4 linked regions of the Homo sapiens genome follow. The protein of the gene in region 4 interacts with the protein of the main gene of each other region in a pairwise test. Each region holds a gene or a part of one and is shown on either strand. Other genes may lie near its edges.

Region 1 (8,106 bases), on a different chromosome or scaffold from region 4:
GGAGTGTTTCGAGGAGAGGAGCCCAGAGGACAGAGCCCTGTCTCCAACTGCCCTACCCAGGCCCCCTGCCCTCAGCTGGGCAGACGAGGAAAGTGGGAGAAGCTGCCTCACGTCCTCAAGGAGCCACAGCCGTGGATCCTTTCCAAAGAGCAATCCTCCCAAAGCTGGGAACTCCAGGCCTGTCTGGAGCAGGGCAAGCTTTCCAAAGCACATCCACTTCCCCTGTCTCCCCTGCTCTCACCAGTACCCCAGGGAGGACAGAGAAATGGCACCAGTCATCTACAAGACTCTCAGAAGCTTTGCCTGTTCAAGTTTCAACAGACCTAAAAGGTAAACGTGATCATACCCATTTTACTACTTGGAATTATTATTAGAATTTACTCATCAGAATGACTTAGCAGCAGAGGCAGGATTTGAACCCGTGTGACTCAAAGCCCACTTCCTATTTGTTTTACAAATAGGAAAACTGAGAATCAGAGAGTTTGAACATTCTGATGGCACCCGCAGGTAGCCCCACACAGTCCTTCCTGGATACTGTCGTCAGGATTGGGGTTTTTAAAGATCGAGGGGAGAGGACACGCAGGATGGAGCAGGACTGTAGGAGCCCAGGCCAGCACTGCTCCCACTTGTCTGGCAAGAGTGGGTCTCCCTCCTGCTCTCTATCAAGTCACCGTGCCAACCAGCAAAGTTGAATTATTAAAACTCCTTTCTGGGGTACCCCACGAATTTTTCCCCGCCGAGACTCAGAGAAGAGGGGCAGCCACTCCCGCCACACAATATTAAAATGTCAGGAGTTTAAGGCCTGCGTTGGTTGAGTCATAAGTTATCAGCACCCAGTGAGGGCCGACAGAATGCCTCCCCTAAATTATTAAGCAGAATGCGTCAGACTGTAATATTTTGCTAAACCAAAGTACAGACACAGACAAAGATGTCATTTCAATATTTGAAACCAGCAAGTTTAATTTAAAATAAGAGCAAACCAATAAGCTCAGAACATAGCGGCGTATGAGAGGAAAATTATACTGTGAGAGGAAAAAAAAGTGGAAGGACTTAAGAAATTTATAAAAGTAATCTCCAAGTGGAAATTAGAAATCAAGGCCTAGAAACAGAATAACACAAAAGAAATATTACTGTCCACTTTCTAAATCAATATAACACTGCTCCACGCCGGAATTACCATGGTAACTCAAGTAAAAAGAATCAAGCAATTCTTATTATTTCAAAATAAAATCACAGCCTGAAGCCTGGGTTTTATTACAACCACTGATAGATCGCTGGCTTGTATTTATCTGAAATATTGCTTTTCAATCAGCTGGTTTATGAATGTACACAGGCCTCTCACCAGCCCACTTACCACCCCATTTTGAGGCTAGGGGCCAACCAATGAATTGATTCTCACCTGGCTGCATCTGCATATATGCTCAGGTCTAAGTCAGCTCAGGGAACACAGAACATCACATCCTTTCAAGCCGTCTAGTGGCTTTGCAGGACAGAGAGGAAAACCTGAAAGAGGCAACGGGGACTGACCTGATTATGGTCCCTCCCCACCGAGGCTGGCCCTGGGAGGAATGGAGCTGGGCTCCCATGGCAGCCCCACTCAAACTGCCCACAGCAACCTTCCTCCCTCCCCAAGTCATCTTCTCACAGGTTCGTCACCCTTCCTTGAACTCTGAGTGTCTTTCTCTCCATCCCCACGTCTGACAGCTGGAAAAGGGAGCAGACAGAGCAGAGAGAGTGAGCGCACTGACTCTGCAGTCAGCCTGCTTGGGTTCACAGCCCAGCCCTGGCATTCTTGAGCTGTGGGAGCTGGAACCAATTACTCAATCTCTTTGTACAATAATTTTCTCATCTGTAAAATGAGGGTAATAGTAGCTTCTTCCTAAGGTTCTTATGGGTATTAAATGAGATTATACATGGAAGATGCTTGGTGGACTGATTACAAAAATGGCCCCAATTCTCTACCCTTCCCCACAGCCACACCATTTGTTATATGACTTTTCACCTCCTACCTTCAAGAGCAGAATCTGCTTCTCCACCCTTTGAACTTGGGCTGGCCTTGTGATTTATTTTGGCCGATAGAATGCAGCAGAAGCGACAAGATCCCAGTGCCAAACCTTGGCCTCAAGAAGCCTTGTGTAGGCTGGGTGTGGTGGTGCGCAGTGGCACAAGCTTGTAATCCCAGCACTTTGGGAGGCTGAGGCAGGTGGATCGCTTGACCCCAGGAGTTCAAGACCAGTCTGGGCAACGTAATGAAATCTCATCTCTACAAAAAATACGAAAATTAGCTAGGCATGGTGATATGGACCTATAGTCTCAGCTTGGGAGACTGAAGAGGGAGGATCACTTGAGCCCAAGAGGTCAAGGCTGCAGGAAGCTGTGATTGTGCCACTGCACTCCAGCCTGGGCAACAGAGTGAGATGTCTCAAAAAAGAGAAGGCTTTTGTGCTTCCACACCTTCCGGACCGGTCTCTGCCATAAGAACAAGTCGGACAAGCCTTCTGGCTAATGAGGGCCATGCAGTCTTGTCACGCCCAGCATCCAACTGATCAGCCATCCTCCATCCTCCAGATGTGAGTGAGCCCAGCTGAGACCAGAAAAACTGCTCAGCCAAGCCCTGCTTAAATCACTGACCCACAGATTTTTGAGTTAAATAAATGCTTATTGTGTTAAGGCTCTACATTTTAGGGTAACTGATTACACAGCAATAACTAATTGATACATACAGATAGCACAATGCCGCACTTTTTTTTTTTTTTTTTTTTTTTTTGAGACGGAGTCTCGCTCTGTCGCCCAGGCTGGAGTGCAGTGGCGGGATCTCGGCTCACTGCAAGCTCCACCTCCTGGGTTCACGCCATTCTCCTGCCTCAGCCTCCTGAGTAGCTGGGACTACAGGCGCCCGCCACCACGCCCGGCTAATTTTTTGTATTTTTGGTAGAGACGGGGTTTCACCGTGTTAGCCAGGATGGTCTCAATCTCCTGACCTCGTGATCCTCCCGCCTCGGCCTCCCAAAGTGCTGGGATTATAGGCGTGAGCCACCGCGCCCGGCCAATGCTGCACTTTTAAGTACGGGTTCAGTATAATGATAGCTATAGTGTTTTATGACTCCTAAAGACTGAGAGGCCAAAGCCAAAAGATGATACTGTAACTGTACAGAGAGCAATGTCAATTCATACAAGCATGAAACTTTCTGGTTTATCAAGTGTGTGCTTGGACATAAAGTGCCAGTTAGGTGTTTCACCCTTTGTAGGGATGAGAAAACTGAGGCCCAGTGCGCTGAAGTCACACAGCAGTCAGCTGGGACAAAACCCAGGTTTTCTGAATCATGCTAGCGGACTACACCTGTAGACAGGAGGCCACTCAAGAAAGCCCAGTTGACCTCCAGGGGAAGGGACAGGAGGGAGGAGCTAGTGACCTGAGCCCATGGGCCTTCACACTGGGCAGCTGCCTCTGCGACCTGGACCAATCTGCTCACTCCTCTCACACCACCTGCTTTTAATTTGCCCCCAGTTGTATCAGCTACTGTGAACTCCTGCCTTGGACAGAACACAAAACGAACACACTCCCACCAGTAGCGAACAAGCTTGTTGCTAGGTTTGGTGGATGTGTCTCTGAGCATGGCCTGGAATGGCCTGGGAGAAGCCTCAGCCAACTAAAGGAGAAAGGGCATGCCAGGCAAGGAGGACATAGGAACAAGGGAATAGAGGCAAATGCTGAGTCTTCATGGAACCCAAAACCAGAGCAGACATACTAAACCTGCATAGTTTAGTGTGATGGTCAAAGCAGCAGTAGGCCTCAGGCAGGATGCCAGGGTAGCAGAGGTTGGGTCAGACTGGTTGTAATGAGCACCACAAGAAAGATAGCAGGTGAGATGAGAATGGTGGTAGCAGAGGAGAAAAGGGTAGGTCCAGAGTCCCAGATGAATGCAATCCAGTGGTGTGCTGATGCATGCTTAACGACCAAGTCTTTGGGAAAATGCCCTGATTTGTAGTGTTTGCCAACATCCATGGTACAAATACTCCCATTGTGGCTGACTTCAAGCTACCAATGCAGTGTCTCTGAACTCAGAGTTGGGAACAGATGTACAGAATCTCTTGCAAGCCAGGACAAGTTGACTCCACTGGTGTAGTCCAATCCCAAATATGGGCCTGCTGGGAAAACTCACTCTAGCAGCACCACAAAGAGCTAAGCCTGGAAATGGGAGGACACCTTGCATGTCTCAGTGTCCTCCAACTCCAGACAGGACAGGCAAGCAAGATGGGACACATGCCATAGGAACCTCTGGGGCTTCTCCACTTCCAAAGGCCCAGGACAGGTGAGTGTCCCTCAGCACCTTTCACCTTACATCTGAGGATAGAACTGCATCTTCTGGGCTGTCAGTAGGCTGGCAAGGGGCATAACTGGGACACCCAAGCACGTGGTCCGTGGTCCCAGTCCAGCTGATGTTTGCTGTAATCAGAGTTTTCTACCACCTAGCCTCATCACGCCTCAGGGCTAGGGCAGAAGGCATGGCAAAAAGATGCTGATGCTCTAGGCTCCAATTCCCCATGGAACCCTAGGCAGCCCTTTTGCCCTGTTTAAACCTCAACCTTCCCCCTATAAATGGAGGAACTTGCAAAGAGTGGTCCTAGAGACCTCTTCCCAAGGTGCCACCTGTCTTGGTGATCTGGACGTGGGCGAGTAGTGAGGTCAGCCTGCCTCCCAGGCAGCAATGATTAAGGACCATGATAAATAAACTGGCAGAGTGAGGGTGCAGGCCCAGTGCTTGCCAGCAAACAAAGCACTGGACTGGACACAGAGTTATTTCAGATCATACTGTAACTGAGCATGGAGCAATGTTGCTCCACACAGCCATGAGGCTTTCTGGCTTATCAAATGTGTACATGGACAGTACCTCACTTAATCCTGAATACAATCCTGCCAATTAGATATGGCTGTTCTCACTGTAGAGACGAGAAGGTAGAGAGGCAAAGGTTTGGAAGCAAAGCAACCTCTACACTGGGTGGACATGGAACACAAAATCACAGTGGACATATTGGACCTACATAGCTTAGTGCAATGATAGAGGTGGCAACAAGTCAAACAGTGCCTGGCACACTGGGACACCTCTACCTTCTGCCCTAACATCTTCCAATCTTCTCAATGTCCCTGATCAGGGCTTTCTGGGAGGCCCTCTGGACCCTGGAGATGGATCCAACAACAGCCTTGGCCTCCCTGCTATATGGGGGCACAGCTCTGGAGGGAGCTCCTAACTCCCTGGGCCTGCATCTGCTCTAGACCCCAACGTGGCTCAAGGCACTCACCCCCAGCCTTCCCTAGCTGCACCATCACGGCTCTGTCTTCTGCTCAGACAGCCCAGCCCGTCTAGCCATGGCCACTTCCCAACTCTGGCAGCTTCGCCCTGGGCCATGGCTGAACCTCGTGTTTCCTTTGCCCATGACCACAGGGAGTCAACTGCCAGTGCTCACTGGCAATCATCCATCTGTTCCAAGGTTGAGAGACCAAAATAGACCTCCTCTTGGTCCTGCCCACAAATAGAGCCTGCTGTGAAGTTCCTTAAATGGAAGCTTATGGGGCAGCTGCCTGGTCTGACTCTGAGACACAGGGTGACACAGGGTGGGGGTAAGGAATCAATTACTCGGGAGGGATGAGAAGCGGGTCCCAGCTCTAGGGAAACATACATTTTCATGTGCTAAAGGCATCTTTGAGGACATGTTCAGAAACAGACAGCAAGAGAAAAAGGCAGTTCCCACAGCCACAGAGGCCAAGTGAGTGGTCATGCCAGCACTGAGCCCCGGCATCCAAAGGGTGAAGCTTTTAGGCGAGCAGCGGCCAGTGATCTCAGCTTCCCCCAGTCCTAATGCTCCTGAAAGGCTCTCTCCTGCTCCCTGTAATTGGGCATCAGTAGTTAATGCAGTATTGACTGCATTACACGCTCCCGTGCCTCCCCTCGCTAATGCCAATTGCATCACCTTGTACAGTCACTGGCTTGCTTAGCCAATAGCCGTTAAAAGCAATCCAAATCATGAATCATATGGGAAACTTTTAGCAAGACACCGCCATCCAAGGAGACAATTTACAGTTGAGTTAATCTGGGTACATTAGCGAGACATGGATTCCGGACGACAGACCAATTTATGTTGTTTCCCTGTCCCCCCTTAGTGCTGCTCTGTGTGAGCAAATGAATGGAAGAGCAGGGAACAGAGAGAAGCACCTGCTTCTTCACCCAAGGCTCGGGTGTGTGTGTGGGGTTGGGGGGCGGGTTACCCATCTTTACAGACACTCTGCCTGGCTAAGTTTGGGCAGGAAGGGGAAGCGGCTGTATGTGCAGCTCAGGATGTGATGCCTCATTCCCAGCAGAAAGGAGGGCTGCCGCTGGGGCTGGTCATGGTAGATGCAGATGGTAACCCTCCCGCTCCCCTGCTTCTAGGCACTGGGCAAGTGCACAATTTGGTCCCCACCCTGCCAGACTCACAAGGCCTTTACCAGGCCTCAGCAGGCAGCAGTGTCCACTTGGCTCCGCCTTCCTGCTGATGGGCTGGGGTCTCTGGCATGGAACAGCATCAGGGCCTGCCTCCCTCTCCAGGGTTGGGACGGTCATGAGCACACTCTGCCAGGAGAGGCCCCTGGGATTCTCTGTGGTCTAGAACATGAGTGTCTATCCTAGGAAATCCTACTGGTGGCCCAGCAAGGGCTGGTTGGTACCCAAGCATAGCCATGCGCCGGCTCTGGTGGATTAACTGAGTCGGCTGTGGAATTTGTGCTCCTAGCAGTCATTAACAATTGAAGACTCCGCTGTCTGGTCCTCCTCAGTCCAGCTTCACTCTCTTGGGCATTTTTACTTATTAAAAATGCCCTAGGAATCATGTCTGGTGTTTAGTTCCACAACCCGCCTGCTGCTTCCTGTGGTCACCCCCACCTTCCTGCTGGGCCTTTGCAAAGGCCGTTTATACCCAGCCCTGCCCTTCTCCTGTGTGCACCTGAGAGCATCCCAGCATCCCCAGCTGGATGCCCCAGCCTCCTCTCCTGCCCAGTCCCCCACAGACCAAAGCTCTCACTGTTCTTGGGCCCTCTCAGACTCTCTGCTGTCTGCTCCTACTCAAAGGCCTCTTCTCGAACAGCCCAGGGGCTCATTTGACTTGGGTAGCATTCAGAGCTGTAGCTCTCCTTGCTCCCTTGGGATTTTAACCCTCCCAAAAAGCTCACCACCTGGTGCCAGCCCAAGCCGCAGGTGCCAGGGGAAGAAGGGCTGTTTCTCCGGGAAAGTTGGAGCTCAGTTCCATTTCGCTGACAGGCAGACCCAGCAGCATGTAGAAAGCCCGGACCCTGAGTTCCAGTAAAGTGGAGATGGCTAGGCCAAGAGCAAGCATCCAAATGAAAGCAATTAATCTTAAAACCCGAAGTTTAACCGTTTGCAAAACAGATCTTTCCGTCTCTGTGGTGACCCTTCACTGCTCGACCTAATGGATTACTTTATTAATAATGCACTGTGCTTAAAAGCAAAAAAAAATTTTTTTTTTCTGACGATTCAATACTTCAGAAAGTCTCTTAAACCCGTTGCTACGGCAAAACGATTGATATTTTATTATCTTTCAGAAGTGCAACATGAAAGCCCTGCAGCCCAGCAGAGCGGGAGCTTTGGTCCTCGGCAGCTGGCAGACCCGACTTCAACCAGAGGAGCCCCAGCCTCTCCAGACAAGATGCTGTCAGGTGGAGAAAAGGCGTTGGGGGTGGTTAATAGCAGCCCTGAGTCCCTGCTGCAGCCAGACAAAAGGTGCCGTATGCAGGGAACGCACCCTTTGGGGGAGCCGGGGGGTGGGGGAATGCTGCCACCCAGTTCAGATAGCCACCTGCTGAGAGGGCAGAAGCGTTCAAGAAGAAGATAGGTGGTTGGTTTGGAGGAGCAGATGAGTGCATCCAGAACCTTTCTCCCTCCCCCAATTGAAGATGCCATCTTCAAGGTTTCCTGGAACTATGGGAGGCCAGACTCCTCTTAATAGGGAGTGGAGTGCAGATGCATGAGCAGAAACGTCGCTTTTGAAAGACAGCTATGGGCTGGGTAGGACAAGAATAGGTGGCTGCTTAGGACACCAGTGGATGTGCTTGTG
Region 2 (8,106 bases), on a different chromosome or scaffold from region 4:
TATAATCCCAGCACACTGGGAGGCCAAGGTGGGAGAACCGCTTGAGCCCAGGAGTTCAAGACCAGCCTGGGCAACATGGCAAAACCCTGTCTCTACAAAAAATTTAAAAATTAGCCAGGCATGGTGGTGAGCCCCCGCAGCCCCAGCTACTCGGGAGCCTGAAGTGAGAGGATCAATTGAATTCAGGAGGTCGAGGTTGCAATGAGCCGTGATCATGCCACCACACTCCAGCTGGGGCAACAGAGTGAGATCCTGTCTCAAAAAATGAAAGAAAAGAAAAAAAAGAGAAATAAAAGAAAATAGAGAGAAAGAGAGTGAGATAGAGAAAGAAAGAAGAGAAAGCTTAGAACATTAAAAAAATTTAAGTACAAATCCTAGAGAAAAAGTAGACAGACTCTCCTGCCATACAATTAAAATTCTGAGGCTTATTAAAATTGCCTACCTTATTTCACCCTTTGAATTTATTAAAAAATTACGCATTCTTCTCAACTAAAAAAAAAACCTCAAATTATCTTTTCTTTTTCTCAAACTTTATTATAAAAATTACTAATGGTTGTTTAAAGTGGAAAAGTGAGAGTTCTCTTGTTGAGTCATTAGAAATGCTCAGATATGAATTTTCATTGTGAAATGAATTTATACAAATTAAAATTAAATATTATTTTGGCAAATATAAAAAATTTCACACCAAAAGAATTTCCAGTATTTTTAAGTTGTATATGAATAGAAAAGAGTTTCTGTAACTTTCAGCCAAAACTCATTATTTCATATATAAACTCCTAGTAGATATTTCCTAATGCAGTTTTAACATATTTTCTAATATCTTGCCATTTAGAAGAAGATCTACTAATTTATTTGGCTCTCAAGAAATGGAGTAGAGGATATAAACGGCGTAAGAATTAACTGAGATCTCTGCCCCATGCCCACTGCAATCCCCACAAGGTCTCCACACACAAAATTTGATTCATGATACATATGGAGAACTACTATTTTAGTTATAATTGATCCCTGTCACTATCTTCTCTGGGGAAACAACTAATAAGGCAATACTAACTTGAATAAAAGTGAGACCCTAGCCTGGACGTTGTGGCTCACGCCTGTAATCCCAGCACTTTGGGAGGCCGAGGCAGGCGGATCATGAGGTCAGGAGATTGAGACCATACTGGCTAACACAGTGAAACCCCGTCTCTACTAAAAATACAGAAAAATTAGCCGGGCTTGGCAGCGTGCACCTGTGGTCCCAGCTGCTGGGGAGGCTGAGGCAGGAGAATGGCGTGAACCCGGGAGGCAGAGCTTGCACTGAGCCGAGATAGTGCCACTGCACTCCAGCCTGGGTGACAGAGCAAGACTCTGTCTCAAAAAAAAAAAAAAAAAAAAGTGAGACCCTGGAGGAATAAATACAGCCTAACCACAGAGCCCACAATGAGCAATCCTAGTAAACAACAAGGAATTTTATAGTGTGTTCAGTACTAATAGGAGAGAGAGCCTAGATTTTATACCCTATTAGTTTTTCAGAGATCTGTAAATCAGAGAACCTATGAAATCAATCTTTACAGATTAGGACTTTGTATAGTAAAGTTGATTATAGTTCTGAATCATCAAAACAATAATCTTGGGGGCTTTAAGAAATTATTTCTTAAAAGGGGGAAAAACTCTTAGACTTTTACAGAGAAACTTTCACACCACACAAAAATCTCAGAGAACAGTAAACCACAATAAGAATCTTAACTCTGATGGTAACTGAAAACAAACACTACATTGTTAGTGAACAAGGAGGAAAAAGGAATTTTACATATTACAAAAGAATCTATAAATTTAAACAAAGAACCTAAGCAAAACTACTCCTGAAATAATGTTAAATTTTTGAATACTCTGAATATTGAACACTTTTGAATACTGTTAAACCCATGCAAAAATCAACCAAAGCTTTATGCAATGTACCTAGAAGGGCACTAAGTGTTGTAAGTTACAGTTTGGTGATGACTAAGACAAAAAATAAAAGGGGTGTCAATATGACAACAAAGACATCTCATACTAGTGAAGTAGCTACAGATCCCCCATGTTTAAAATGACAGGTCTTTTCATTTTTGAACACTAAGTTACTTTTTTCTCACAGTGTAAATGGACTGGCAATGATCAAGCCAAAAATCCAACAGGTGCCCCTTTAACCAACTGCATGCACTTGTAAAACAGCTGCTCATGGAATGGAATGACTCACTGGCCAACAAAGAAATCAAGCTTCAGCATCATGCTGTTATCAACTCACCAAGAACCTATCACTCAAAGGAAGCAACAATTTAAATTTTGGCAAAGCCCAAAAAGCCTAAAAATATATATATATGGAAGATAATCCCACTGGGGATACGTATTTCTACCCATTCCTCTCTGGTGCTTGAGTGCACACGTTCTCTCTCTCTCCACACATACGGAAAGGATATATATATATTTTATATACATATATAATTAATATTAGATAAAAGAAGTTGGTAACAACCCAATTAAAAAATGGGCAAGGGATATTAATAGACATTTCTCTAAAGAAGATCTACAAATGGGCTAGGCGCAGTGGCTCAGGCCTGTAATCCCAGCACTTTGGGAGGCCGAGGTGGGCAGATCACCTGAGGTCAGGAGTTCAAGACCAGCCTGGCCAACATGGTGAAATCCCATTTCTGCTAAAAATACAAAAAAATTAATCGGGCATGGTGGTGGATGCCTGTAATCACAGCTACTGGGGAGGCTGAGGCGGGCAGATCACCTGAGGTCAGGAGTTCAAGACCAGCCTGGCCAACATGGTGAAACCCCATCTCTGCTAAAAATACAAAAAAATTAATCGGGCATGGTGGTGGATGCCTGTAATCCCATCTACTAGGGAGGCTGAGGCAGGAGAATCACTTGAACCCAGGAGGTGGAGGTTGCAGTGAGCTGAGGTTGCGCCATTGCACTCAAGCCTGGGAGACAAGAGCAAAACTCCATCTCAAAAAAAAAAAAAAAAAAAAAAAGAAATCTACAAGTGGCCAAAAAGTGCATTAAAAGATGATACTCAATATCATTATTCATTAGGAAAATACAAACCAAAACCACAATTAGAAACCACTTAATACCCACAAGGATGAGTATTAAAAAAACAAAAAAACAAAACAAACAAACAAAAAAAACAGAAAACACAACTGTTAATGAGGTTATGGGAAAATTGGAATGTCCTATACATTGCTGATGGGAAGGTAAAATGGTACAGTCACTATGGAAACAGTTTGGCAGTTCCTCAAAAAGTTGAAATATAACTACCATATGACCTTGCTCAGTTCTACTACTAGGTATATACCCAAGAGAAATGAAAACAGGTACTCAAATACATCCATACAAATGTTCACAGCAGCACTATTCACAATAGCCAAAAGACAGAAACAACCCAAATGCCTATCATTGGACAAATTATGGTATATACATACAATGGAATATTATTCAGCCATAAAAAGGAATGAAGTACTGATATATGCAGCAAAATGGATGAACCTTGAAAACATACTAAGTGAAAGAAGCCAGACACAAAGGGTCACATATTATATGATTCCTTTCATATTAAATATCTACAACTGGTAAATCCAGAGAGTGCGTTGGTGATTGTTAGTGGCTAGAGGGAAGAAGCAATGAAGAATATCTGCTTAATGGGCACAGGGTTATATTTTGAGATGGAAAGATGTTTGGGAAGTAGACAGAAGCAGTAGTTGCATAAGATTGTGTTAAGCCACTGTGTTAAGTTCACTTAAAGATGGTTAATTTTGCTTATGAATTTCACCTCAATTAAAAAAAATTATAGCTTCTTTATATCTAGCACCTAGAGAACTCAAAAAGCTCCCAACCATTATTTCATTTATCCTTCAAAACACCTGTTGAGGTACACATCATAAGATTATTCCAACAGACAATAAGGCACAGAATTTGTGATCATTTAAATAAATGTTTGCGGCCGGGCGCGGTTGCTCACGCCTGTAATCCCAGCACTTTGGGAGGCCAAGGTGGACGGATCACAAGGTCAGGAGTTTGAGACCAGCCTGGCCAATATGGTGAAACCCTGTCTCTACTAAAAATAAAAACCTAGCCGGGTGTGGTGGTGGGCGCCTGTAGTCCCAGCTACTCGGGAGGCTGAGGCAGGAGAATAGCTAGAACCCAGGAGGTGGAGGTTGCAGTGAGCCGAGATCGTGCCACTGCACTCCAGCCTGGGTGACAGAGTGAGACTCCATCTCGGGGGGAAAAAAAAATGCTTGCTAAGTAAAAGTTCATAGCTGCAGTCGTAGGCATTCAAAAATGTTGGTTGAACAAATGAACACATAAATGTCTCCAAAGTCCTAGTGCCATTTCTACCAGACCAGATAGCAGTATTATAAATTCTCTTTCTCCCTCTCTCCAGCACACACACACACACACACACGCACACACACACACACACCCCAGACACCAAACCACTTTTATAAATAAGTTTTGAAAAATTCCGTAGCTTTTCCAAATTATAGTTTTTAAATGGATGTTAAGCAATTACATAAAGTGACTAATCTTAATTTTAGTGGAATCTTACTAAGAAATGAATATAAATAATGTCCCTTATTGTTTAGCAATTTACCATAACCTTTTCTAGCTATATTAGAAGAAATTCATTTACATTTCAATATTCAGTAGCCTATAATAGATATTTTGTAGACATAGTTTAGCTTTTACTATGAACCTTTTTATTTATAAAATAAGAGATGTTTTTGTTTGAAAAAATTTTTGTTCCATTCTTGTCATATTTCAATCACTTGGATGTATCCTACCTTTTTCACTTCCTCTTTCCATGAGCTATCATTCAACTTTCAGTTTCACTGACAGGGCATCACGTTCCTTCCTCCACATTCTCTCTCTAAACACCATGTTTTGCTTCATTCCGACAAAGCCTAAGCTGGGTGCAGTGGGTCACCCCTATAATCTCGGCACTTTGGGAGGTTAAGGCAGGAGGATTGCTTGAGCCCAGGAGTTCAAGACCAGCCTGGGCAACATGGTGAAATCCCATCTCTACAAAAAAATTTTAACAATTAGCCAGGTGTGGTGGTGCACATCTGTAGTCCCAGGTGCTCAGGAGGTTGAGGCAGGAGGATCACTTGAGCTCAGGAGGTCAAGGCAGGCTGCCACTCCAGCCTGGACAACACAGCGAGATCTCGTCTCAAAAAAAAAAAAAGCCTGAAGGTTATGAATTAGTTTTAAGTCACAGGCACTGCACTATTGCTGCAATAAATGTTGATGAAGCTATCAAACTGCTGCATCTACTCGGAATGCTAAGTAAGCTCTGCCACATCTAAGTATGAAAAACTAGAATGCTTAAAACAGGAAGGGAAAACACTTTCTTAGCTGTGGAACAAAGTATCTGAAATATGCAAAGAACAGTTTTACACCATAACCAGCTTTGTCTATCACAGTGGAAACAGTAACTGAAAAGTCCTGCTATCAATAATCAATATACAGCTTGCATGGAGCACCATCCTTTTTTTTGTACACAATTGGAACTACTCTTCACACTGAAAATGTTTGTTAAACAAAAGTCATGTAATTACAAATTACTGAATATAATAGACAGTAGTTTTTTATAATTATTCAGCAAATAATGCCCATTATATAAAATACTGAATAACTTTAAAAAGTATACCTAATGCAAATTTACATGAGTAATAATTTTATATTAAATATACAACTGTCCTCTATTTAATTCTGTTCACTTAAATTACAATACTTCCTTTACGTGCCATGAATAATTATACTTGGAAAAAAATGAAGTCATTTAAAATGGAGTTAAAATAGTTTGGTTCAACACAAGGACAACCTATGTAGTGCCATCCTCGTCAAAACACTGCAGAGGGAGCTAGCCCAGCTCTGAAAATATTTACTTAATACATAATGCAGTAATGTCTCACATCTCCCAGGGTCATGCTTCTTGCAACATCAATACTGAGGAAATAGCTGAGGACCCAACAGTAAACCAAAACAACCAACAAGCAGCAGAAAAACTAAACTGCCCTAAAGCCCACTGGGCAGGCTACACTGGCCTCTGTTTTTGTTTTGTTTTGTTTTTTGAGACAGAGTCTTGCTCTGTCACCCAGGCTGGAGTACAGTGGCACAACCTCGGTTCACTGCAACCTCCACCTCCTGGGTTCAAGTGATTCTCCTGCCTCCACCTCCCCAGTAGCTGGGATTAGTACCTGCCACCACGCCTGGCTAATTTTTTTGTATTTTTTAGTAGAGACGGGGTTTTGCCATGTTGGCCAGGCTGGTCTCAAACTCCTGACCTCAGATGATCCACCCACCTCAACCTCCTAAAGTGCTTGGATTACAGGTGTGAGCCACTGCGCCCCACCTGTTTTGTTTTTTATACTTTTTTCTTTTTAGAGATGGGGTCTCACTACATTGCCCAGGCTGATCTAGAACCTCTGGGCTCAAGCGATCCTCCCACCTCAGCCTCCCAGTGTTGGGATTACAGGAGTGAGCCATCACACCCCGCCTAAGGTCTTTGTTGTTGTTGTTTTTTCTTTTTACATAGTATTCTGTCAACCTCAGTTCTGGGTTCCTTAGTCGTAGCAAATCTAAAACAGCAAATTAGGAAAAGAGGCAGATGAGGAGTAAGAGCATGCCCATAGCAATACGAACTAACAGCAAGGAAAGAATAAGCACAACAAAAACAGAAAGGAAATCTATAAAATGTCTAACAATATAATCCCAACTATATTATACACTCTGCACTGAAATAGCAATTACAATTCCAGGCCTACGCTAAAATAGGAAACCTAGTTATTCTGTGCCTCATTTTCCTGTTCTGGATAATGGTCATACACTATAACATGTGTTTAATATAATGTATTTGATAAGCCTTTATGTTTTTTAAAAAATGGCATTTGAGGCTGAGTGCAGTGGCTCATGCCTGTAATCCCAGCACTTTGGGAGGTCGAGGCAGGCAGATCACTTAACGGCAGGAGTTCGAGACCAGCCTGGCCAACATGGTGAAACCCCATCTCTACTAAAAATACAAAAATTAGCCAGGCGTGGTGGTAAATGCCTGTAATCCCAGCTACTTGGGAGGCTGAGGCAGGAGAATCGCTTGAACCTGGGAGGTGGAGGCTGCAGTGAGCCAAGATCCTGCCACTGCACTCCAGCCTGGGAGACAGGCTGTCTCAAAAAAAAAAAAAATGGCATTTGAATATTCTTTTCTGGTCATAAAAGAGATACATTGTATCAAGAATTTGGAAAATACTAAAAGTATAAAGAAAATTAAAATTGCCTATAAGCCACCACCCAGAGATAGCCACGATTTACATCTTGGTGCTTTTTTTCAGGTGTCTTCATATTTAAATATGTACATATACCTTTTCCTGGTAACTTTTTTCTTTTTAACCTGGCATTATTTGTGGGCATTTTCCACACTCAAAAAGTCTTTGTAGAATTATTTTACATATCATAATTTATTAACCCATTATTACAGATTTGGGGTAGTATAAAACATTTTATACAGTATACTATATATTATACTGCATACATGACAAACTGTTTAAAAAGTGATCATTTATAAGGTTTAGATACAGAAAGGGAATTTTCCAATGGAACTGTTTATCAATAAATTACCCCCAAAAAGATTTGTAAGTTGTGGTTTGCAAAACTAGATTATCAAATACAATACTTAAGTCCAGTGAACAAATGAGACATTTGCAGAATGAAGTCTCAGATAAACTTTGGAAAATGATCATTTAAAGTTGTTTCTGATGCCAGCAATATGGATTTCACATTAAGAGAATTCTAGATTAATGTTATTAAATTACAACCGTGCTAGGAAAGTAACACTTATTAATGACTCATTAATCATTCTGTTCATTCATTAAGCAAATATGTATGAATAACTATTTGAAAGGCATTATATTATGGTGCATTAATATCAATAGTAAAGCTTTCTTAGTAATTCTATAAAATGACATAGTAGTATTTAAAACACTTTAACAAAACGTGGAAGAATATCCCCCAAATCCTACTGCAGCTCATCCCTCTTTGTACTTATCACCCAGAGTCTGTCTCTCCCACTAAACAGTGAGCAACTTGAGA
Region 3 (8,404 bases), on a different chromosome or scaffold from region 4:
AATAAAAAACAAGACTCTTACTCCTAAACTATATAAACAGCACTATGTGTGACTACTGTCATTCATAAACCTGGATGCTGACGCTCATTCAACCATCCGTTAAAAGGAACATTTGAACAACTCCAACAGGAAACAAAGAATAATCTCAAAGTCATCCAACAGAACAGAAACCCACTACTAAGAATGCTGACTGCTCGCTTCAAAGAGTGAAGAATGGGCCTCACGTCACAGGAGGCAGTGGAAACTAAGGGATGGGGCCCCGGAAGGTGCACTGGCCCAAACCCCCTCCCACTGGCCCTGGCTGCAACTCGTGCTCAGACTCACTCTTCCCCCTCTCTCAAAGCCCACTCATGCAGGAGTGGGTAGGAAATGCGAGGTCCTCCACTGATCTTTACCATATGGTGCAGGACTTTCACATAGCTGGTTTCAATGAGGGCCCTTGGACCCCACAGGAACTCATAGCATGCAGGATCACTGCCGGGGACCTGCCGGTACTCCAGGTAGTTTTCCTGCACGAAATATTGGGTGAGCAGCTTCTTGGGATCCCCGAAGATACTGTCTTCCCTCCCCTCAAACACCTCTAACACACTCAGCTCCTCCCAGATTTTCTCCTCAGGGGCACAGTCGCCCTCTTTTGCGATTATGGCCAGGATGATTATCAGGAAGCCTGTCTTGGGCATGATCTGATTGTCACCCAGCAGGCCATCGTAGGAGAGGCCCAGGCAGGTGGCAAAGATGTACACGTGGCCGATGGGGTCCACTTCCATCAGCTCGATGCCAAAGACCAGCTGCAAGGAATCGGAAGCTTTGCTGAAGATCACAGGAAAGAAGTACTGCCAATTTCCGACGACACTCCCCAGCATTTCTGCCTTTGTGACCGGCTCCCTGGCTCGATACTTGAGGAGCAGAAAATGAACCAACTTGGCCACCTTCCTACTGAGTGCTGCTTGGAACTCAGACTCCAGGTCAGGGAAGGTGCTTGGCCCCTCCTCTTCTTGGTTGCTGGAGTCCTCATAGGATTGGCTCCAGAGAGGGTAGTTCATGGTAGTGGGGAGGCTGGAGGCTCCCTGAGGACTCTGGGGAGGATCTGGTGACTCGGCAGCAGGCACCTCCCCCAGGGTGACTTCAACTAGAGTAGAAGAGGAGGAGGCAGCCTCCTGCTCCTCAGTAGCAGGAGCCTGCGCACCCACCAGGCCCAGGGCCTCTCCTCGGGCCTCAAGGCCTTCTTCAGGCTTGCAGTGCTGACTCCTCTGCTCAAGAGGCATGATGACTCTGGTCAGGGCAACAGGCGGGAGTGTGGGCAGGAGCTGGGCAATGGAGACCCACTGGCCTGGGGAGAGAGGGAGCATGTGAGAGACCTCAGCTGAGTACTGAATGGAACCTTGGAGGCTCTAACAAAGGCTTACTTACAGATCTTCTCCTTCAGTGCTCCTCCGGGGGCCTCTGTTCCTCCACGTCAGCCTGTCCCCTCAGAACCTGAAGGAGGAAGTGAGAGGGCACCTCAGGGTACATCCGGCCAGCACATGCTGAGGCTGCAGGACTGAAAGTATTGAGGGTGAGGCCAGGCGCTCTGGAGTCCATGTGTTCTGGGGCAGGTGGGGCCCTTGGTTTGAATCCAAGGCAAACCTTCACCGTTGGCACTATCTGAGCCCCCTCTACTCTGTGACCTGAGGACACTGCCTCAGACCAAGTCCTCACTGCCTTGTTCCTGGAGCTCCTGATTCCTGGGAGAGGAATCCACGGGCCCCCAATGTGCAGACAGCAAACGCAGCCACGGATTCCCAGAACTGTCAGGAGGGTTGGCCAGACTCTGTGAGGTCCCCACTCTACTGGGGTGGAGGATCCCCTCTGTGCTCACTCAGGGCCCTCACCTTTCTCCTTATAGGACCTAATCCCTCCCTTCTGCTGGCCTGAGAATCTCTCATGTCAAGAACTCACATACCTGATATGGTACAGAAAAACATGAGGGGACCCACATCTGGCCATACATTCCCAGGTCCTCCCGGAAAGGACAACGAGAGATGTCCAAATTTATTGAAGTCCATGTACCCTGGGTGAGGAGACTGCTTGGTCCTCACCTCCACTCCTAGTAGGGTCTGAGAGCCTCCCTCTACTGCCCTGAGTGCAGTCCCCTCAGACCAAGGCTTCCCCTTCCCTGACATCAGTGATCCTAGGATAATGGAGGGACCTCAGCTGACAGCCCTGCCCAGGCTCTCTGAGGTAACAGCAGGAGCAGGGCAGATTTTTATGGGGCCCCCAGTCCGCATTCTGTCCCAGGGGTACCCTCAATCCTCCCTCAGTCTCTTCACCTGGATGCTTGGCAGATCCTAGGACCACTGCATCTGTCCACCACATAGGGGCCCCTTGGGGGTACACCTTGGGCCCTGCAGATCCTGGGATTCCTCCCTCTGCTGACCTGAAGTCCCACTCTTCAGACCACAGCCCTCAACTCTCTGGTCACCCTGAAGGCGCAATGAGCACAGAGCACATTTGGCCACTGTGCCCAGCATCCCCCAGCCCAAGGTTGCCACTGATCTGGACTCCAAGGTCCCCTCAGTCCTCCCTCTTCTTCCTCCCCATGACTCCTCGCAGGGCTGGGCCCCAACCCCCTGCTGAAGTGGGTCTGCATCCCTAGGATTCCCGTAGCCGAATGAAAAGGTGCCTCGGTTTGAGACAGGGGTACAGTGGGCCCCCTGTCCTGGCATGCTGGGTCCCCTCAGGACTCCACTGTCTTCCAGGAGGGCCTGGGCCCTTTCGCTGCCTCCCAACGGCCATACTCGCGATACCGAACCCCTTCCCTCCCTTAGCCGTAGATGTGAACCTCAGGACTCACGTGCCTGGCCGCCATTCCCGGAGCTTCCGTGACTTGATACCAGGGGCAAAGCCCGGATTCTGCCAGGATAGGGGTGGGGGTGGGGATGGGAATGGGGAATGGGGGATGGGGGTGGGGTTGGTGTTGGGGGACGGGAATGGTGGTGAGGGTGGTGGTTAGGCTGCCCTCAGTTCCCTCTCGGGGTCCTGACCTTGATTCCTGCCACAGCGTGGGCCCTGACCTCTTCTAACCAGCCCTGCCCTGGCCACATTAAGCTCTGTCCCCAGAGTTCCCCGTGGCTAAAGCGGCGGGGGTCGGCGGGGTGAGGTAGTGGCGACCCAGCCTGGAAGTCTTCCCCTGCGGGGTGGCCCAGGCCCGGCAGCAGAGGCAGCACTGGATTATTTGAGGCCCTCTGTCTGAGGTGAGGCCCGCCTCAGTCCTCCCTCAGCGTCTTACCTTGCCTCCTCACCGAGCCTGGGCCGGCTTCCCTCCGCCGACGTCAGGCCGTCGCTCGTTGCTCAGGGCGAGAATCTCGCGGTCTTCTGACCTCCAATGCGCAAGTCAGTGGCGTCACATCCTGGCAACGGTACTACCCTGGGTTCCGGGCAGGGGTGGAACTGGATTCTGCCTGGATGGGGATCGGATGGGGGTGGAGGTAAGCATGAAGATGGTGATGGGGCAAGGGGTAAGGATTGGGACGGGGGTCCTGAGGCTGTAGATCCTGGTGGGGTCGGGGGAGTTGGGGGTGGGTGGGCGGGGCCTTCGGTCATCCCTCAGGGTCCTGAAGTTGATGCCTGGCTGAGCCTGGACCGCCATCCTCTGCAGATTGCTTCTGCTCCCCTCAGACCAAGTCTCTGACTCTGAGTCCCCCTGAAGTGGCATTGGGGGAAGGGGTGTGGTCTGGGTGACATCACTGCCTGCGTTTACCAGGGCTGACAAGAGGGGCTGAGCTGGATTCTGTGGTCCCTCTATGGTGTGTGGGGTGGGGGGGCGGTGTGGACCCTCAGTCCTCACTCAGGAGGGTCGTTTTCGTCACCTCTGGCTGTTGGATGAAGTGATGGGCAGGAGATGCTCTGTTTCTGTCACCTGTGAGCATTTGCACAGCTGCACCCCTTGTAGAGAATGCCTGCGGGTCCCAGGCCAGGTGCTCCCTGCAGGGCGGGGCGGCAGCTCCCGCGGTTGTAGTGACCTCCTATTTCAGTCTTTGTGTTCTGTTGAAAGAATTTTTTTTTTTAAAAAATGTAATTCCTCTCCCACTATGGTGGTTTCAGGTTGTTATTAGCAGAACTCTGGAGTCATACTGCCTTAACCAACCAAATTTTCCTGGTGTCCTGCTATTACCTAGGGCTCTTGGCATCGTGTTTTCAGAGGCTGCCTCAGATTGTGCAAAGAAGTGAAGTGGAAAATTTCAAACTTTTATTCTACCCATTCTGTCATCTACCGTGTAGGCCGGCTACAAACCTCCCCAACATCCCTGCTGCTAACCCCCTCCAACCAACACTGCAAGTGTCAAACACAAGTACCAGCTCAACACAGCCTTGAGTCTCACCCTGGGCTTTCCCTGTTTTGTTGCTGATACTGGTTTTTTATTTACTGTTTCCATTCTGTAATTTTCCAGGTTTGATTTGGGAAGCAGAGCACAGCAGCCCAAATTTGTTGTAATGGCGGCGGCTACAGGTAAGGCACTAAATTGTAAATAATTTAAGCTGAGTTTACATTTTTACAGTGTTGTGCTCCCCATGAATGAATATATTATACTCCTCTATGTATTTCAAGGTTTTTTTTACCTGAATATGTCAGTATACTTCGACAGTTGTCTCTATAAAGACCTTATACATTTTTATTAGACTTCTTTTCAGGCAATTCATGAATTTTGTTGCTATTGCAAATGGCATATTGTCTATTAATTGTTGTAGTTAGTTATTGCTTTCGTGAGGTGAAGATTTTGATTTTGCTGTAGTAATCTGTTGCACACCTCGTTCTGAAGGCCGATGCACTTGAATATTCCACATACCTTTTCCTTTGAATTTTCAAGATCGATAATGGTATTATCACTAAACATTACATATTCTTCCAGTATTCATACCACTTACTCATTTTGGTACTTATAGCTCTTTGTGTCTCAATCCTGATTTCAATCGTAGAGATAATAGCCTACATCTACTTCTCGTTCCTGACGTGAATGATAATTATTCGAACGTTTTGCATTTAAGTATGTTTGCTGTTGATTTTAGGAAGTGCAATTTCTCTTTGAATATAGGTTAAATACTTTTTTTTTTTTTTTTACCATGAACTCATATTAAATTTCTTTAAAAAGCTTTTTCTGTACCCGTTGACGCAATCAAATTTTTTTCTCCTCCATTTTGTATGTAAGGAATTACAATGAAACCGTTTTTTTTTTTCCCCTAATGTTAAACCGTATGTTATTTCCTTGGGCAGAGCCTGTTTATTTAATATGCTAGTAATTTACGTAGGATATTTGCTGCTATGTAAGGGAGCTTACTTAATGTGTGCTTTTTTTCCCATCAAGGGTGGGATGTGGTCCTCATCTGGTTTTTGAATCCAGGAGGGCTAGTCTGGAAGAATGAATTGAACAATTGTAAATATTTTGTATGTTCTAGAAGAGATGAGATAAGATGGTGGTTAGTTTTCCCTGATCATTTGGTAGAATTGGCCTCCAATACTGCCTAACCTGGAATGTTTGAAGGTGGCTTGAGCTTTGAACATTGTACAGTTTCAGTTTTTATAGTTTAATTAAAGTTTTCTTTTTCTTTTTGGATCAGTTTGGTTACTGGTTTATTTTATTTCTACAAAGTGGTCAGTTTCATTTAGGATTTCACTTTTAATGGCATATTTATTATAAAAAAAGTTTTACTAGGGAAAGCCTTCACACATACAGAATAATAGGAACTAATGTAATGAACCCAGGATACTAGATACCCAGCATGAACAACTTTAAATACACAGCAAATCTGGTTCCAGTTAGACACTTGCCTACCTGCACATCAGCTTCTGGAATAACGTGGAGCGAATCTAAGGCATTAGACCATTTCATCTCGAAATAACTCAATATGCATTTTTAAAAGATAAGGACGTTTTATTAAACAGAATCCCAATAGTTTTCATATCTGAAAAATTATATAAATGATTATCAAATATTCAACTATTTTACATGCTTATCTGGCCGACTTATACTTTATAAAAAACATATTTCTTTGATGGAGTACCCAAATATGGTAACTTTCCCGCCACTTGCTTCACTGTAGTGGTTTCATACATGTATAATACAGCTAGGTTTGTGTGTGTGTGTAACATTCTACATTCTGTCCCATGATTCTCCAACTTCTTAAGTTACTTTTAGACTTTACATACATTAAGCTTCACTCTTTGTGCTGTAAAGATCTATGGGTTTTGACAAATGCCTCGTGCCGTTGTCTTAGTCCCTTTGGGCTTCCATAACAAAAATAGTGTAGACTGGGTGGCTTATAAACAACACAACTTTATTTCTCACATTCTAGAGGTTGGGAAGTCCAAGATCAAGGTGCTGGCAGATTTCATGTCTGATGGAGACCTGCTCCCTAGTTCATAGACAGTTGCCTTTCCCCTATGTCCTCACATGGAAGAAGGGGCAAGGGATCTCTGTGGAGTCTATTTTATAAAAACACTGATCCCATTCATGAGGACTCTGCTCTCATGAACTAGTCATTCTCCAAATACCCCACCTTCTACCTAATACCATCACCTTGGTATTTCAGCAGATGAAGTTTGTGGGAACACAAATATTCAGATGAAAGCAAGCATGCATCCACCATTACAGTATTACCATACTAGTTTCACTGCCCTGATAAATCCCCTGTGCTTGTCAGATAACCCCCTTGGCTGCCACTGATAGGTGTTTCATCTTTATAATTTTGCCTTTTCCTGAATGTCATATAAATAGACTCGCATACTATGTAGCCTTTTTAGACTGGTTTCTTTCACCTAGCATAATGAACTGAAGAGTCATGTATAACTTTGTGTGGCTCAGAACTTATTCCTTTTCATTGAGGAGTAGTAGTATCATTGTCTGGTTGTACCATAGTGCGTGTGTATATATATATCCATCCACCAAATGAAATACATTTTGGATGCTTCTATTTTTGGTGATTATGAAATAATCTTTTGTATACAATCGTATACAAATTTTTATGTAGACGTAAGTTTTCACGTCAATTGGGTAAATTGATTATGACTGCTGAATCTTATGCTGTGTTCAGTTTTTTAAGAAAACGCCAAATTGTCTTCCAAAGTGGCTGTACCATGTTGCATTTCCACCAGCAATGAATGAGAGTTTCTGTTGCTCCACATCTTCCCTGGCAATTGATCTTGGTTTTCTTTTCTTTTTTTTTTTTTTTTTGCTTTTTTATGGATTTTGGACATTCTAATAGGTGTGTAGTGGTATCTCATTTTAGTACACAGTTATCTAATGAGAACGGATTCTCAGTACTTTTTTATGCTTATTTGCCATGTGTATATCTTCTTTTGTGAGGAGTGTGTTCAGATCTTTGCCTATTTTCATGTTTTTTCTGTCGTTGAACTTTAAGAATTCGTGTATGTTGTAGAGATATGTTCTTTATCACATATGTGTACCACCGATGTTTTCTGCTAGTCTGTGGCTTCTGTTTTCATTCTCTTAACATTGTCCTTTGAAGAGCACATGATGTTTATTTTAATAAAATCTACTTGGTAAATTTTTCTTTCATTGATCATGCTTTTGGTGTTGAATTTAAAAACTCACCACTGAACTCAAAGTTATGTGAATTTTCTCTTATGTTTTCTTATAGAGGGTTGTATAGTTTTTGCATTTTGCATTAGGTCTGTGATTTATATCGAGTTAATTTTTCTGGAATATGTAAGGATGTTTCTAGGTTATTATAATTTGCCTGTAGATGTCTAATTGTTCAGGCACCTTTTGCTGGAAAAACTGTACTTTCACCATTATTGCCTTTGTTGTGAATCACCTGACTATAAGTGTGCAGGTCTATTTCTGAGCTCTATTCTGTTTTATTAATCTATGTGTGCATTCTTTGCTAATGCTTATGTCCTCCACCAAATTCATACTTTGAAGCCCTCAGCCCCGGGGTGTCTGCATTTGGAGATGAGGCCTCTAAGGAAGTAATTAATATTAAAAGAGGTCATAAGGGTGGGGCCTTGATCCCATAGGATTAGTATGGTTATAAGCAGTTAGAAGAGACAGAAGAAATTACTTGTGTGCCTGCACTAGCTCTCTCTCTCTCTCTCTCTCTGCACATGCACAGAGGAAAGGCCAAGAACGGATATATTGAGAAAGGGCTATCTACAAGCCAGGAATAAGGCCGTCACCAGAAACCAACCCTGCCAGTCCTTGATCTGGGACTTCCATACTTCAAAACTGTGAAAAAAAATAAATTTGTTTTGTTTCAGCTACTCAGTCCATGGCATTTTGTTAGGGCAGCCTGAGCTTACTAAGACATAACCTCAGGTAACACAATTTTTTTTTGTTTTCTCCTACAGAAAAAAAAAAAACCCATAATTTTGACATTTAAGTCTGTGGTTCATTTTGAGTTACATTTT
Region 4 (7,746 bases):
CCTCCTTGCCAGGTATGCACACCTGCTTGGCCTGAGTGGATCCTGAGAGCGCTTCACTGGGGGAAGGGGTGGGGCCTATACCCAATTCTGACAGAGCCCAGGTATCAATCAGATTTGGCCTGAGCCTCTGGCAGGACTGAACACGCATGGAAGGTGGCACACAGTTTGGTCTGTTTCAGCAGGAAAAAAAAAAAGCCAGAGAACAAGCCTGACTCAGGCAGGGCCTGTGCCCCAGGGCGTTAACTTCACAACAGGGAGACAGGATGGCTTTCGGGGGGCTTTTTTTTTTTTTTTTTTGAGACGGAGTCTTGCTCTGTTGCCCAGGCTGGAGTGCAGTGGCGCGATCTCACTCACTGCAACCTCCGCCTCCTGGGTTCGAGTGATTCTCCTGCCTCAGCCTCCTGAGTAGCTGGGACTACAGCCATGAACCACCGCGCCTGGCCTCAGAAGGCTCTAAACAGCCAAACGCTCCATTGTAAGCCGGGGGATTACAGCCCACAGGAAGGCAGTTTCCAGGGAAGAGTCTCCCCCCATCTGTGGGCAGGCACCCACCCCTGGGGCCTCAGACAAGCAAGAGAGGGGATGAGATCCCTGCTGCTTGGACTGGAAGCTCGAGTGACCCCAGCTCCCCACACCTCGCGTGGTTGCCCACACAGCACACACAAGCAGGCCGTTTTCAGGAACCGGTATTTATTATCAAAGTCATATTCGATGTCAACAAGATGCCACAACTACAAAAAAAATTGCGCACATTGCAATCTCAATGCAAACAGTCAAATGGAACCCCAGTCATTAAAAAAGTAATTCAAATTACCCCAAAAAGCAACTGAATTTTTTAAACATCTTTATACATCCAGCCAACAAATTAAAATGGTTAACAAGAAAAAATACAAATTCAGAGGTCTCGTATCGATGTTTAAAAAAGGCAACTGCTTAAGCGTTTCTATCAATTCGAACGTCAATCTCTCGGCCACTCAGCTTCATGCCATTCATCATCCGGCAGGCTCTCTCGGCCACCTCTGGCGACTCGAACTTAACCACGCCACACCCCTTGGACTTCCCATTCTCCATCTTGATGTCGGCGTACAGCACGTGGCCTAGGACAGGGAGGGAAGAAGAGACGACACTCAGTCCCGATTTTGTTAGATTTTGGTGGACAGAGTCAAAAAGGAGAGGCCCTGAAGCCTAGAGCACAAAGGCTCAGAATACAATGGCGAGAACCAATGACTACGGCCCCCTCAGCCACACTGCCATTCTTCTGCTAACAGAGCCTGCCCCTGCCCCATGAAAAGCCTTCCTGGCGGATTCAATGCACGCCTTTACGCTTCAGGAAGTTCAAAAAAGAAGGCGCAGTGTAAAGCCAGCTTTATAGGCAGAAAGTTCCCATACATTTTACAAAGTCTTCATTTTTGATATGCCACCGCCCCTGGTTACAAAGCCATCCGCAATCCAATGGACACGTCTGTACTGTCCAAATGAAAGCCAGCAGGTTTCACTTATTCATTTGAGCACCCGTTAAGCATCCAGATATGTGTCAACGCCGTGGACAGAGCCCTAGAGGGCAAAGGCTCTACTCCAGGAGTACCAAAGGTGGTAGGGCCACAATGCCAGAGGTGGGAACTCAGTGCCTAAGAGAGGGCCCAGGGCAGGTAGGGTGGAGGGGTCCTCAGGGGCAAGTTCTGAGTGAGCTTACACAGAAATTCACCAGAAAGAAGACTTGCCAGTAATTGGCTCACACGAGAGCATTGCGGGACACGTGCAGCACTTGCCGCTCAGGTTCTGGGACAGGAGGGAGATGGAGGAGGATAGGACCAGGTCTTCAAGGGGCTTGTGAGTCTGGACTTCCTCTTGAAGGCACAGGGCCGCTCCAGGCATTGCAAAAGTGGGGGCTGGGGGCGCTGTGATCCCACTGGCCTTTTCAGAATATCTAGCTACAACATGGGAACTCAGGAGTGGGGAAAGAGGTGAAGAATGGAGCAAAGAGGCAGATCATGACTCAACGGCTTGCCCCAAGAACCATGGAGAAGCAGCAATGGTGGTGAAATCGGAGCCACTGCTGAAACAGGAAGCGGGAGGACAGTGCGGAAGCAGCTGCCCAGACCTCTAGCTCAGGCCCCTCTAGCTAAAAAGAACAGAGGTGGTGCATGCGGGGTGGGGGCTCACCCTGGAGGGCAGGGAAGGAAGACAACTTGCTTTCAGCCACAGACAGAGCCCTCCAGAAGAGTTGCCCGATGTGCCAGGAAACCACAAGACCTTAGCCTCACCCTCACAGGAGCTGCTGTGTGCCCAGAGCCTGCACCGCCTCCCCATGGCACCTGCTGGGCTGTGTTCTCTCCGAGGCCCCACACCAGCTGTGCTGAGGGGAAAGCGACCTCGTCTGGGATGTATTTATTTAGCCTTGCCACCTAGAAGCCAGGTAACCTCAGAAGGAAGACTCTGCCTGACTCATCTGTGAAATGGGGACACTACTACCTTGTTTCAAAGACTCAAAAAGAAAAAAGGAAGTAAGGATGAAATGAGAACACAGCTGAAAAACATGTGACACATCACAGGACACTCAACAACCTGCCTGAGCATTGGCGTGGGCAGAACATGGCAAGGCCATGGGTCCTGAGCCGACGGAGGGGGCTGGGAGGGAGGTTTTGCTGCTGACTCGGCTGCGTCACCAACAAGCACGAGGGAAGCACCTACAAAGCCGTTCCCAACACTTACCGCACTCGTTGAATTTGTCCTTTAGCATCTTCCATGTGAAATCGAATGGCAGCTGAAGGGGAGAAGAAAAGGGAGACTGATGCGTGATTAAACCAAATCCTAAGGCATGCCTTGCAGCTGGCTCTGAGGGCCATGCTAGATTTCTCACTATACCGAGAAGCTGGCTGCCCTTCAGACTGAGGCGATCAGCAGGAAACTAATAGATACATGTGGGACAAGGCTGTGAAGCGGCACAGCCAGCTCCCTCCCTGGGGCTCTGCCTGTGGGAGCACCGTGCAGGATGGGACACTCAGGCCTGCGGTGCGCAGCCCACAGTCACTAAATAGTGGCTAAGGGTGGCTGAGCTGGGGAAAATAATTCCGTTACAGCCACTTCTTTCCCTGGACCATCGTGCAACACATAGTGCCTCTTCAAGCCAACCAATCAGAAACTGGAGTCTCTGAGCTCAGCGTCTGCTCCATATTCTAGCACAGTGGAGAAGCCCAGGCTCTTCCAGAACCCACAGTTCTCACATTCCTTACTTGTCCCACTAGCATAAAACGTTTGGGACAGTGGCAAGGAGGTGTGGTCCCCTTTGAAGGGCGCCACCTCTGACTTCATCCTGCTGATCTTTGCCTCCCCTGTCCCCTCATGCTCACCACCACCAAGAAGTTCCCCAAGAGCCACTTACATTTCTCACAAATATCTGGCAGGCCTTCCTGGCCACCCCAGGAGCATGGCCTCCAGCTCCACCAAAGGAACCTGCGAAGCTTCCTCCGAAGTTGCCACGCTCCATCTCGATGGCACGGTCAAAGCTGGCACCGCCACCGCCACCCATGGCCAGGCCCATGCGCTCAATGCCAGCGCCCAGGGCCGGGCCCATGGCAGGGCCCATGCGCTCGAGGCTGTTGGCACCCATGCGCTCCAGGCCCATGCGCTCGAGGCTGTTGGCGCCCATGCGCTCCAGGCCCATCCGCTCCAGATTGTTGGCGCCCATGCGCTCCAGGCCGGTGGCCATGCGATCCATCACGGGGCCCATGCGCTCCAGGCCAGCTCCCATACCTGCGGGCACCATGCGCTCCATGCTCAGGCCCATGCGCTCGATGGCAGGGCCCATGCGCTCCACGCCAGAGCCCATGCGCTCAATGGTCTGGCCCACACGGTCGATGGGAGCGGCCATGCGCTCAAGGCCGAAGCCCATGCCGGCACCCATGCGCTCCACGCCAGAGCCAATGCGCTCCATGGTCTGGCCCATGCGCTCAATGCTGGAGGCCATGTGGTCGAGGCCCAGCGGGCCCATGCGCTCAATGCCGGAGCCCATGCGCTCCACGGAGCCCATGCGGTCCATGACCAGGCCCATGCGCTCGATCTCGGAGCCCACGCGATCCATGCCGTGGCCCAGGCCCGCGCCCATGCGCTCCATGCCGGCACCCCCGAGGCGGTCAATGCCAGGACCCATCCTCTCGATCCCAGGGACGCTTCCTCCACCTCCACCTGAAACAGGGACACAAAACACAGGTGGGTGTCAAGAACTTGAGTGTGCGTGTGCACAACACGCCAGACCACTTCAGCTCATGGGCATGGATCAGGGGTAAAGGCCCACCATAATTTACCATTAAGACACCCCTCAAATGTTGACAACAGCTACAGCTGTGTGGTGGGCACATGGGGGCCTCCCAGCATTCTCTCTGCTCTATGCCACAGCTGAGATTTCCATAACACAACTTCTAAAGAACACCCCTGTATGTGTGTCTGTGAGGTGCTAGTGTCTGTGACAAGCTTTGTGAACCATGGACGTCAATTCCTGAGACATCTGAGGTTTCTCCATCAGCAGACACTGAGAAATGCTCCAGGGGGAGGCATGGACACCCCCCACTCGGGGGGCCACCCAGGGTAATGAACAGGAGTTATGTGGAGACAAGTCGGAGTCACTCCCACCTTCCCCTCCCAGCCTGTCCCTCTAGGATGCTCTGCTGGGGGCCACTCTGGCTGCATTTCCTCAGCGCTCCCAGGGCACAGAGAAAGGATTTTCGGCCACACCATCAAGCAGAGGTCAAAAAAACACACACCGAGAGATCCTCTGTGTACAAATGCACACAGCTGGCCACTTTTGGGGACCCTATTGTCAGGGAAACCAAATGACTTGCTGGCTTTGGAAAGAAGATGTTGATGGCACTGCAGAGTGGGCTCTGGTAGCGGCTGGGGGTCAGTCAGCAGAACGAAGGGACGCCCCCACCCGTGGTGCTTGCAACTCTGGAAAGCAGGGTCTGGCTCCGTCAGCAAGGCCACCCCTTTCCACATGCCGAGTTTGGGGCTCCTCCCCGAAACCCTGTCGCTTGCCTCTGAGAGTGGCCATCAGCCCAGAGCCAGCCTGTGACCGACCCAAGCAGCCTAGTCAAAGATACCAATTCAAGAGGAAACTGGGCAGTTTCTCTAACTGGCTCTGTAACTGGCCACACCGCGCCTGCTTCTCTAGCTGCACAGCACACAGTGAGCGGCCAAAGCAGGCCCGACTCTAAGAATGTGTGACTTTCAGAGGGGAGACGTCTCAGAACTTCCCCACAGTATAAGGAACCTAGCGAGAATGGGCACTTTGCCCAAAGGCATCAGAAATGAGGTGGGGCAGCTGGGTGTGGTGGCTCATGCCTGTAATCCCAGTACTTTGGGAGGCCAAGGCGGGCGGAACAAGGTCAGGAGTTCGCGACCAGCCTGGCCAACATGGTGAAACCCCATCTCTACTAAAATTGCAAAAATTAGCTGGGTATGGTGGCGTGCGCCCGTAGTCCCAGCTACTTGGGAGGCTGAGGCAGGAGAATCGCTTGAACCCAGGAGACGGAGGTCACAGTGAGCCGAGATCGTGCCACTGCACTCTAGCCTGGGCGACAGAGTGAGACTCCGTCTCTCAAAAAAAAAAAAAAAAAAAGAAATGGGAGGAAATGGTACCAGCGTGGAGCTCCAGAGCCAGCCCAACACAGAAGTCAGGAGGTGAGATGCCAAGATACTCAGAGGGAAAATCAGGCTGAAAAAGTACATTTGGGCCAGGTGTGGTGGCTCACATCTGTCATCCCAGCACTCTGGAGGTATGCAGGTCACTTGAGGCCAGGAGTTTGAGATAAGCCTGGGTAACATGTCAAAATGCCATCTCTACAAAAAAAATCAAAAAATTAGCCAAACCAGGTGGCACACGCCTGTAGTCCCAGCTACTTGGGAGGCTAAAGTGGGAGAATCGCTTAGGCCTGGGAAGTTGAGGCCGCAGTGAGCAGAGACTGCACCACGGCACTCCAGCCTGGGAGACAGAGCGAGACTGTCTCCAAAAATGCTCAAAAAGTACATTTTGTTCTCAGTATCCATAAAGCTGTGTATGAATGAAAGATTCAGAACAAAATGTTTCCGGCAGTCATCACTGGGCGATGGGGTTTCAGACCATACTTTCTTCATATTTTCCTAATGAGTACATTTATCTATTTTACAAGCATTTATTACTTGTTGGGTGGTGTGCTTTCAGTCTTATCATCAAGTCTAAGGAAAATATATTTACTTTTAGGAATTTATAATGTGGAAAACAAAACCCCCAAAAGAGAGGTACTCTAACAATGAAGATGGTCGGCCTGTGCACAGCACGTGCGGAAGCACTCTTTCACATGCATTCACTCTCCACAGCATCCCTGAGGCAGGTACTATTACACCCCCATTTTACAAATGAGTGCTATGAGAAACAGAGAGGTTCAGTGACTTGCCAAACGTCACACAGCTAGAAAAAGGCAGAGCTGCTCCCACCCCGGGCAGTCTGTGTCAGAACCCGCACTTCTCACCACTAAGCTCTACAGTCCCCAGCGATAACAGCCTGTTCTAAAAAAACAAAACATCAAACTAAGCGGTTCCTACCTCCTCCCTGCTTTGCAATGATCTCTCCTCTCTTCAGTGCATTACTTAGGATTTCTAAGGAAATCAGGAAGAAAAAAAAATTAGCCAAATTCCTCTATGGCAATAGAAATGTGCTCATTACAGATTCCAGAGTAGAAATACTACTAATAAAAATGACAAGATAAAGGGAAAGGGGTTTGAGAAACACACGCACAGACAAGATCATTTTACAGAGAACTAGGAGAGTCCTTGATGCTGGGTCACGATGCCAAGACCCCACGTAGCTCCAGAGTCTGAGGCCCAGCGTGCGGGGTCACCTGCGAATGCGCCCAGCAGAGATAGGAGTCATATGCATTCATGAACTGAGAGCCAGAGCAAGAAGAGGGCCATCGGGTCTCGCTCAGCGGCAGTTTTCTAAAGCTGGTCCAGGCTCTCAGGACTGAGGCTTCCTTGCCTCCCCTGAGCTGGAAAGTAAGCCCCCACCCCCACCCCAGCCAACTTCTTGTTCAGAAGACCGCCCAGCATCACCCACTTGGAGCCCACATTTATCCACCCAGAGGCACCTCTCATTATCATAGAGCAAATTAAAGCTGCAGCTCCACGGACAACCTCAACGCTAACAAATGAGCTCTGCGCGGAAATCCTTGAGCATGCCAGCCTTGCCTGAAATGAGCTGGGTGTGCTGTGACTAGGCAACAGATAAGGTTTCAGGAAAATACCTAAATTGCACCCCCCACCAAGTATCCCAAACACAGTGCTGCTGCTCACTTGCCCACGGTGCACCCACACCTCTTTAAGGTTTGTCTGATGCTATCATAGCATTACCTTTCCAAGCTTCTGGTCCATCTTTTGCTATGTAGAAGACACTTGTACCCACCCGCTCTGGTCTCAAAGTATATGCTCAGCAACTTGGACATTAGCCACGAGGCACATTTCGCTTTATGACCACGGCCACAAAGCCATTAAAACCTGTCCCCCGGCCGCGCAGTAGCTCATGCCTGTAATCCCAGCACTTTGGGAGGCCAAGGCGGGTGGATCACCTGAGGTCAGGATCAGCCTGGCCAACATGGTGAAACCCCGTCTCTACTAAAAATTAGCCGGGTATGATGGCAGGTGCCTGTAATCCCAGTTACTCAGGAGGCTGAGGCGGGAGAATCGCTTGAACCCTGGAGGCAGAGGTTGCAGTGAGCC

What was found.
Region 1: the proteins of HNRNPM (region 4) and LMO1 interact in binary tests that used the Homo sapiens proteins (3 or more experiments, as listed by UniProt).
Region 2: the proteins of HNRNPM (region 4) and AKAP9 interact in binary tests that used the Homo sapiens proteins (3 or more experiments, as listed by UniProt).
Region 3: the proteins of HNRNPM (region 4) and MAGEA6 interact in binary tests that used the Homo sapiens proteins (3 or more experiments, as listed by UniProt).

The regions. Positions count from the first base shown.
Region 1 is NC_000011.10:8,253,077-8,261,182, forward strand, and holds part of LMO1 (rhombotin-1), read right to left. Parts: intron 1-8,106. UniProt on the Homo sapiens protein: May be involved in gene regulation within neural lineage cells potentially by direct DNA binding or by binding to other transcription factors.
Region 2 is NC_000007.14:91,943,496-91,951,601, reverse strand, and holds part of AKAP9 (A-kinase anchor protein 9), read right to left. Parts: intron 1-8,106. UniProt on the Homo sapiens protein: Scaffolding protein that assembles several protein kinases and phosphatases on the centrosome and Golgi apparatus. Required to maintain the integrity of the Golgi apparatus. Required for microtubule nucleation at the cis-side of the Golgi apparatus.
Region 3 is NC_000023.11:152,766,386-152,774,789, forward strand, and holds the start of MAGEA6 (melanoma-associated antigen 6), read right to left. Parts: upstream 3,305-8,404; 5' UTR 3,269-3,304; intron 1,541-3,268; exon of another isoform or gene 1,477-1,540; 5' UTR 1,411-1,476; intron 1,331-1,410; 5' UTR 1,266-1,330; coding exon 321-1,265; 3' UTR 1-320. UniProt on the Homo sapiens protein: Activator of ubiquitin ligase activity of RING-type zinc finger-containing E3 ubiquitin-protein ligases that acts as a repressor of autophagy. May enhance ubiquitin ligase activity of TRIM28 and stimulate p53/TP53 ubiquitination by TRIM28.
Region 4 is NC_000019.10:8,482,042-8,489,787, reverse strand, and holds the end of HNRNPM (heterogeneous nuclear ribonucleoprotein M), read right to left. Parts: intron 6,631-7,746; coding exon 6,577-6,630; intron 4,186-6,576; coding exon 3,383-4,185; intron 2,765-3,382; coding exon 2,713-2,764; intron 1,098-2,712; coding exon 934-1,097; 3' UTR 674-933; downstream 1-673. UniProt on the Homo sapiens protein: Pre-mRNA binding protein in vivo, binds avidly to poly(G) and poly(U) RNA homopolymers in vitro. Involved in splicing.